Linked DNA regions of Homo sapiens: regions 2 and 3 are each linked to region 1. Evidence: fine-mapped expression QTL. A gene starts in region 1. Each other region holds a variant in brackets. All regions are shown on one strand. Distances are between the middles of the regions. Region 1 holds the start of CPVL (carboxypeptidase vitellogenic like). Region 2 overlaps CPVL (carboxypeptidase vitellogenic like). Region 3 overlaps CPVL (carboxypeptidase vitellogenic like).

Region 1 (2,643 bases):
TACCAAGCTAATAAAATGTATTCTCAATGGACTTTTTACTCTGCTTACATCTTTGTTCTTACTCATCCCAAAGCAAAGAATGGAAAAAAAATGAGTTGTACATTTAGCCGGGGAAGGGAAAGGCAAGTACTGAGGGGCTCCTTTTTCATTTACTGATGCCAAAACTGAGGCTGTGGAAGATAAGTTACGTCCCTGATGTCATCCAAGTAGTGGATACCGGAACCAGGAATTGCACAGAATTGTCCAGCTCCAAAACCCAAGCACCTTGCTTGGGACCCACTGGGGTTGCAGTGAAGGTGGGGGGCTCAGAGGTGACTGCACACGGGTCATGCATAGCCACAGTCATTATATGGCCAGAGTTTTAAACATTATTTTGTTCTGTCTTCACCATAGACTTCATCATCAATCATAACTGATAAGGAAAATTACACTTAGCTGAAAAGCCAAGTCCCGTGCTAGGGAGGCATTTTCTGTATGTTATTTCTATTTCCAATAAAACAATTCTTTAAAAAGAAAAACTTATTATCTCCATCTTTCAGATGGAAAGACTGAGGTTTAGTAGGCTTAAATAATTTGCCCGAGGTCACTCACTAGCCAAGGCCAGAACTGGGATTTAAATCCACAAATATTCCAAAGTCCTTTTGTTTCTGTATCACTTCACAGGGAGCTGCTTCCACCTGTCTCCTGTGCCCTTGGTTTCTGCTAATCCTACATTCCAAGAATAAAAGTCTTCCTATGCGTTCCTAGGCAGAAGCCAAGTTTCCCTGCTTTGGGCACGTTCAAAATAGAAGGTATTTTCCGCTTCTCTTGCTTCTGAGCACCCACGAAATCAACACATCCCCAAAACACGCGTTGAGGGAGTAAGGGAAAGTGTCCTGCACCCGCCACCCTCCCGCGCTAAGAGCGGCAGAGGACCCCACAGCTTCGTACTTCCCCGGAGGAGCTCCTGGAGTAGGAGACGGCTTCTAGCCTGGAAGAACCCCGGGTGCGACAGTTGTGCCAGGAAACTTCAAGAGTATTCCCTCGGCTGGGCGCACGCAGTACATCCCCAATGCTCCAATTTGAACTTTGACTCGGCCACGACCACCCCACTCCAGTCTCACTCTACGGTGCTTTCTCCCCTGTTGGTGCTGAGGGCTTTTGAGACTACCTGCCCCGCGCTCCCTAAGTCCGAGGGACCGAGGCGAGGACCTGTCCCGCTGAGCTGGCACGACCCACGCAGGGCAGGCGGCACTTACGCGGCGCAGTCGGTGCTCCTCCCTGAGCCGCGGCGCGCAAGGACCCCAGCCGGTTGTCCTTGCAGCGCTTCCCAAATCAGGCAGAAGTGAGGCAGCCCCACCCAGTCACGAGGACCCTGCAGAACTCGAGCCTTTAAGCGCTCCTCTAGGCTCACATGACCCAGACCCACAGGGCAAAAAGTGCGTCGTCGTGTCCCAACCTCCTGGTCCCAGAAACCTGGCCGCATCAAGTCAGCGCTTCCCATGCTGGAAGAAGCAAGCAGCCCCAGGGTGGAATCTTAAAAATTAATGAAGAGCATCGGCGGGGTGCCATTCAGGTTGGTTTGTCCCTTTGTTTTATTTTGATTTTGTCTCCCAGTTTTTAAAAGCTGCTATCTTAAAATTTCAACCCTGTATTTTGAAATTATTTCTGCACTCTAGGACTTACTTGCAAGCCCAGGATTTACATTTGGAAAGCGAGTGGTGTTTGATTCCCACTGTTTAAAAAGGCAACACACGTTCGCTGATGGTCTACATTCCAGCTGCACTAGCAGTAAGCTCGCACCAAGTGCCACTGTCCTGCCAAGCACTCTCCTGAATCACTGCGCTGGAGTCTCAGAGCCACCTGATGTGTTCTGTACCATTATACCCATTTTGCAATTGGGGGACACAAACTAAGTGAGGTTAAGTAACCCATCCAGGGTCACATTGCTTGTAAGTGACCTGAGTGTATATTATTAGCCACCACCAGGTGCTGGGCATCGAGCCAGACAGTACGGGAGCAAGAACTAAAAAAGGCAAGGAGGTTGCAATGGCAAGTAGATAACACAAAATAAAGGAGGGTCATCATTATCAGCAACAGCAGCGTCAACTGCCAGACAGGTGGGAGAGGCCACGGGGAATCTTCTGCACTGTCCCGGGCCAACCTCCATCTCCTCACAGCTAGCTGCAGGAGTGAGCCCAGGGAAACCCGCAGTAGAGCAGCCCAGCCAACCCGACAGTCAGGGGGAAAAATTGTTTTAAGCCACTTTCAGTTTCGCGTAGTTTGTTATGCAACTAAGGCTAACTAAAGCACTAGTTTTACGAGCTGGAACAAACTAATGTCACTGAATATCTGTTTTCTCCTAAGTACCTACTTTATTGGGTTGTTGTGAGGACTCACTGAAAAACTATGTGTAAATCACCCAGCACAAAGTATGTGCTCAGTGACTGCAGTCATTCTTTGCTATCATACCTTCCATATGGAAGTACTTCCTACCCACCTAGCTCTTTAAGGAGAAAAATCTGTTTGTGGGAAAATAATTCTTTTAAGGCCAAAATCAGCCCACCTTTAATATATGCAGGACCCAGGGCAAAAGTACAAACAGAGATCTGTAGGCCAGATACCTAAATATTTAAAAGTTATAAACAAAGTTAACAAATGATT
Region 2 (2,813 bases), 120 kb before region 1:
GCAAATTAAAACCACAATGAGGTATCATCTCATTGGAGTTATAATGGCTATTACCAAAAAGACAAAAAATAACAGATGCTGATGAGGATGCAGAGAAAATGAACTCATACACTATTGGTAGGAATGTAAATTAGTACAGCCATTATAGAAAACAATATGGAGGTTTCTAAAAAAAACTACAAATAGAATTACCATATGCTGCAGCAATTCCACTACTTGATATTTTTCTAAAGGAAAAGAAATCAGTATATTAAAGGAATATCTGCACGCCATGTTTATCATAGTACTATTCACAATAGCCATGACATGGAATCACCCTAAGTGTCCATCAACAGATGAATGGATTTTAAAAATGTGGCATATACACACAATGGAATATTACTAAGCCATAAAAAAGAATGAAATCCTATCACTTGCAGTGACATGGATGGAACTGGAGGTCGTTATGTTAAAGGAAATAAGCCAGGCAAAGAAAGACAAATATCGTATGTTCTCACTCACATGTGGGAGCGTAAAAAGTTAATTTCATGGAGGTAGAGAATAGAATGATAGTTACCAGAGGCTGGGAAGTGGGGATGGGTGGGAAGACGAAGAGAGATTGGTTAAGGGGTGCAGACAGTTAGATAGAAGGAATAAATTCTAGTGTTCAATAGCACAGTAGGGTGACTATAGTTAAGAACGATATATTGTATATTTCAAAATGGCTAGAAGAGATTTGAAATGTTCCCAATATAATGAAATGATACATGTTTGAGGTGATGGATATCCTAAATACCCTGATTTGGTCATTAACATTAAATACATGTATCAAAATATTACATGTATTCTATAAAGATGTACACTTACATATCGACAACAACAACAAAACCCTTCCCTCAAACAAATCTCCAAGCCCAGATGGCTTCACCAGTGAATTCTCCTAACACTTAAAGATACCGTTTCCAACAACAGAAAGAGGAAACACTTCCCAACTTATTTTATGAGGCCAGTATAACCATGATTCCAACACTTGAAGAGGACATTGCAAGAAAGGAAGATGATGAGAGTAACATCTGACCCCGCAGTGGAAGTTGCACTAGGGTGTCAGCTAGAGAGATTTTGTCCTGAGGCTCCACATGTAATATAAAAATGTGATCATACATTTGCCAGAGGAGATTGTGTTGAAACTTCCTTTATAATTTGCCAAGTTCTCTCCCCAAATAGACTGCAATTCTCTCATTAATGATTTGCCTCTTTGGACTGAGCACTGTCTTTTTAATGAATTGTCTCCTTACCTCTTGAACAATGCCTAAACTTTTGTCTGGTTTTATATTTAGTCCTATGTATGTCTGAACTCAGACCACTCTTCTCTGTGGAAAGTAGGGCCACAGAAGACACACACTGGCTGTTGTATGGCTTTGCTTAAGGTCGGCCATGTCTCATTGCTATTCAGGCTTTATTTTCAATCCCGCTCTCCCATTCCCACAACCTGCCTGCTCCCAAGCATCTTCCTACCTGATGGAAGTCACCC[G/A]CTTGCCGGATGTAACCAGCCACTTCACTGTCAGATTTAAAGATCTTCCAAACTTTTTTTTCTGCCTTCTTGTATTCCTGGGATCCTTTCCAGTCCATGCCCATCAAGGAGCGCTCTGTCAGGGCAGCTGCCACGATGATGTCCAGTTGGCCATTGTAGATCAGAACCTGAAATGAAATCAAGCCATCAGCAAATGCAAGATTCAGGAGGTGAAGCTCATGAATCGAGCTAGGTATAAATAGTGAGCCAGTGAGAGAGAAAAAGAGACATGAATCTCTCTGAGATTTTCTTCTAGTTAGCCATAAAGAATAACAATCCGAAATAAACTCAAGCCTTGTCTCTACCACTGAATTCTTCATAGTAATCTGCATAAAGGCCTCTCTTGGTTGCAAAAACATTTGTGTTGTATTACTCAGTGATACATATATACAGGTTTTACTTGGACTTATGGCTATGTTAAGAAGGAAGACTGTGGTTACATTTTAGTGGAACTAAGGAATACTACCCCCTAGGATTTTCATGAAGCCTGCATTTCATTAACTTCAACTTCAGGCAGTGCAGTCGCTGGCAAGCTGAGCTTTCTCTTGGGTATTGCTAATCCATATTGCTCTCCTCTCCTACATTGATTTCAGTAGCAAGTATAATTTTTTTGCAGCAGCAGACAGAGAGATTCAGGTGCCTCAAATTTGTTTCTTATTGGAAGCAACTATGCCTGCCATGCCACTTGCAAAACTTCCTTTTTAAAAATATGATAGCTGCTTGTCAACAGTGAGGAATGTTCTTTCTTCCTAGAATACAATTTTTTGTATGTGTCAAACTGATGTTTATCATAGGAAAAACAACACTGAGGTAACTCTTTTCATTAATCCTAAAGCAATTTTCAATTTGCTTGAAAAAATAATTCAGATAATTCCCAATTCTGATAAAGTTGTAGAACTAATGGGGACAGTATAAAATGGCTCTTCTTTTCAGAAAATCAGTAGCCAATTTTCTGCCCCCAAACTTAAAAATGTTGAAATTCCTTGTCCCAGTAATTTCAACTTGTAGAATATATTCTAGGAAAACAGGTCCAAAGAAATTTTAAAAAATTATATATATTCATTGAGTCTTATAATGAAAAACTCAAACACAATCCAGAAGTCCTATAATTGAGTAGGTAAATGCACAACAGTATAAGAATTCTATAGGATATTATAAGACCATTTAAAATGTTTCATTGAACCATGATGCAATGTGGGAAATACTTATCACATAATGTTAAGTATGAAAGCAGAAAGTCAAGTATAATGTATATCACAACTAT
Region 3 (2,813 bases), 150 kb before region 1:
GTACTTCAGCACCGTGCTTGAGGCCATTTTAAAAAGCAAAATCAGCCACAAAAAAAGCACAAAAATGCGAAAAAAATGTGGCACTAAACAGACTTAGCAAAGGACAATTGGGCTGGGTGTGGTGGTTCACACCTGTAATCCCAGCACTTTGGGAGGCCAAGGTGGGAGTATCACCTGAGATCAGGAGTTCAAGACCAGCTTGACCAACATGGCAAAACCCCATCTCTACAAAAATATAAAAATTAGCTGGGCTTGGTGGCGCGCACCTGTAATCCCAGCTACTTGCGAGGCTGAGGCAAGAGAATTGCTTGAATCCGGGAAGCAGAGGTTGCCGTGAGCCGAGATCACACCACTGCACTCCAGCCTGGGCAACAGAGCGAGACTCCGTCTTAATAAGAAAAAAAAAAAAAAAGACGATTTTTTACAGTATGAAAGCTGAAACAAGAAGGCAGAGCGTCTCCTTCTTTGACCCCAGCTGGGAATGTATATGTTGGGCAACTGAAATTTTTTGCCACTCTGTACATGACCTCAAAAGAGCAAGTGTATTGATATTGGGGTTACAAATACATTTTTTAGCAAGTAGACTCCATTTGCAAACATGGAATTCTTGAAATAATGAGGATAAACTGGATCATCTCATAGTACCCTTGTAAATAGGTACTACTCTAGTGACATGTGAACCCAAAAGAACCTCAGAAGTCTCCTCTTCTGGCTACCTTCCTTGAGTTTTTGGGAGGCTGGTATGGTGAAGTGACTTCTCCTAAAACGTCCAGTGCATGTGTGATCCATATGAAACTAAACCCAGGTCTCCCAGCCAGTCAGTGCCCTTTCCAGTACATAGTTATGAGACTAAATACAGCTAATTTAACTTGCAGATGGGGCTATATGAAAAACTTCTTGCGTCCTACCCTGTCCCAGTTTATTCTCTGCAATAATTAAAATCTGCTTTTGATCAGAATATTTGATTTAATGACTTCTAGGACATGGGTACAATGAACAATTTAAAAAGGAAGATCACAAACCTGAACGTAATCAGGCACAACATGAGAAATTAAAAGAATAAACTCCATAAACTATTTGCCGCAAGAACAGGCTTTGACTTTTTAAATTTAATTCTCCAGTGAGCCAGTTCATAGATGGGTAATATGAGAAGGAAGTGATGTGGAAAAATCCACACGTCTTGTAGAATTTCAGAGATGTGAGCACATGATGCATAAATCGAAAAGATGTGCCAGGATGTGACATTTTAGTCAGAAAACTGCTAATGAATGTATATTTATAAATGTATATATTGATGCCAGCTTATCTTAATTTTTTTTGATATTCTAACAATGATACAAAATTAGGTTGTTCTTTATTTGGGGAAAAGAAGTAGAGAATTTGAAGCCCAAATTAAAATGGCTCTTATAACTAATGTAGCCTGCAGGCTCTTTCAGAAGTGTGTACACCTCAAACTCAAAGAAGGAAAAAGAAAATGAAAAGGCAAAGATTAAGTTTGTTCTCTGCATAAGAGCATCTGCTTATCAAGAATTGA[C/T]TCATCATTACTTTTATATATAATATTTTTATTTCAAAGAATTCTTTTGTTCTAAGACTTTATACATTTGAGAATCTTTTCCCCAAAACTATTATAGCTTCATCCATTTATTTGGGATAATTGAGCTATTCTTATCCAATAATATTTCCAAACACCTTCACGGCATGCCAAACTTCTGTTATTGGCAGAAAAAGATGTTACAGCTTTGTTTGTTACAACTGCACTTTTCACTTACTCTTAGAAGAAATTAAAACTTCCTATTCAAGACCCTAAAATTTCATTTATACATCTTGTCTCAGTGTCACATCATCCATACCTTTCATCCTTTAAGTTAAATAATGTAATTCTTACTCATGTACTCATGTTAATTTTGTAGTAAACATCTCCCCCCAAAAACAAAAGCTCACTTGTTTCAAGGATAATTTTTATTGATGAAAAAAATCTTGCAGATATGAAAAGATAATTTTTTTATTCCTATGACATTTTCTGTTTTTACGATTTTCTTTTCAGCAATGAAAACCTCTGATGTTCTCTTTTGGGAAGGTAGTTTATCCAACATAAGGATCCCATCCTTTTCCATAAATGAATCGATTAATCATGTCAAAAGCTCTCAGAGGCTGGTCATAGGGTAAAATATGTCCTCCACCTCGAATAATTACCTTAAAAAGAAAAAGTAAAAGAACGGAAATTTAGAGAAATGGATATTCTAAATACATGGAAAGTTTTCATTCAGATTAAACTCTATTTAAAACTCACATGAAATACAGAACATATTCTCCCAATGCATGCCTTTGGACAAGCTGCCTATCTGGCTGTTGATGGCTTTTGTAACAGGCATGTTAAGGTAGAAAAGTTTTAAAGCTTAGTTAATTTTACGCAAAGTTGTATTCTTTTCTCATGAGTGTAAAAATTGAAAATTATTCCTTGTCTTTTTCCTCTAGAGAGTGATCTGCCTGCTCCCCGCAGTTGAGAGTGCTGCACTGCAAGTGTTACCTGGTGAGGCCCACCTCCAGCCCACTACTTCTGGGGTATGTGAGGTCTGCCTGCAATGGGGTGGATTGTCTACTTAATTCCACCCTTCAGTTAGCCAGCCCAATTGTCCCTCACACTGAGCCATACCTTCCATTTTAGCCTTTATCAGTAATGAAGGGGAAATTTTGGTTCTCAAAAAAATTAAAAAACCAAAAACATCCTTGACTGAGGCAGGAAGATGACCTGAACCCAGGAGTTGGAGTCTGCAGTGAGCTAGGATCATGCCACATGCACTGCACTCCAGCCT

Evidence for each region. PIP is the estimated chance that this variant, and not a neighbour inherited with it, causes the effect. A credible set is the group of variants that fine-mapping cannot tell apart.
Region 2: its variant is the best candidate, but not a certain one, in a credible set for the expression of CPVL in monocytes (CEDAR, PIP 0.61).
Region 3: its variant is the best candidate, but not a certain one, in a credible set for the expression of CPVL in whole blood (TOPMed, PIP 0.88).

What each region holds. Positions count from the first base shown.
Region 1 is chr7:29,145,191-29,147,833 of GRCh38, forward strand. CPVL (carboxypeptidase vitellogenic like) reads right to left here and starts at 1,347. Exons shown (of 13, transcript NM_031311.5): 1 at 1,239-1,347. It also overlaps a transcript of CHN2 not described here.
Region 2 is chr7:29,029,083-29,031,895 of GRCh38, forward strand. CPVL (carboxypeptidase vitellogenic like) reads right to left here. Exons shown (of 13, transcript NM_031311.5): 12 at 1,495-1,677. Among named protein-coding and RNA genes, the nearest start is that of CPVL-AS1, 50 kb to the right of the region's middle. The variant G/A (reference allele first, on the strand shown) is at 1,511.
Region 3 is chr7:28,993,690-28,996,502 of GRCh38, forward strand. It overlaps CPVL (carboxypeptidase vitellogenic like), which reads right to left. Exons shown (of 13, transcript NM_031311.5): 13 at 1,546-2,193. The coding sequence ends at 2,083. It overlaps CPVL-AS2 (CPVL antisense RNA 2), which reads left to right. Exons shown (of 5, transcript NR_038965.1): 2 at 2,476-2,562. Among named protein-coding and RNA genes, the nearest start is that of CPVL-AS2, 15 kb to the left of the region's middle. The variant C/T (reference allele first, on the strand shown) is at 1,535.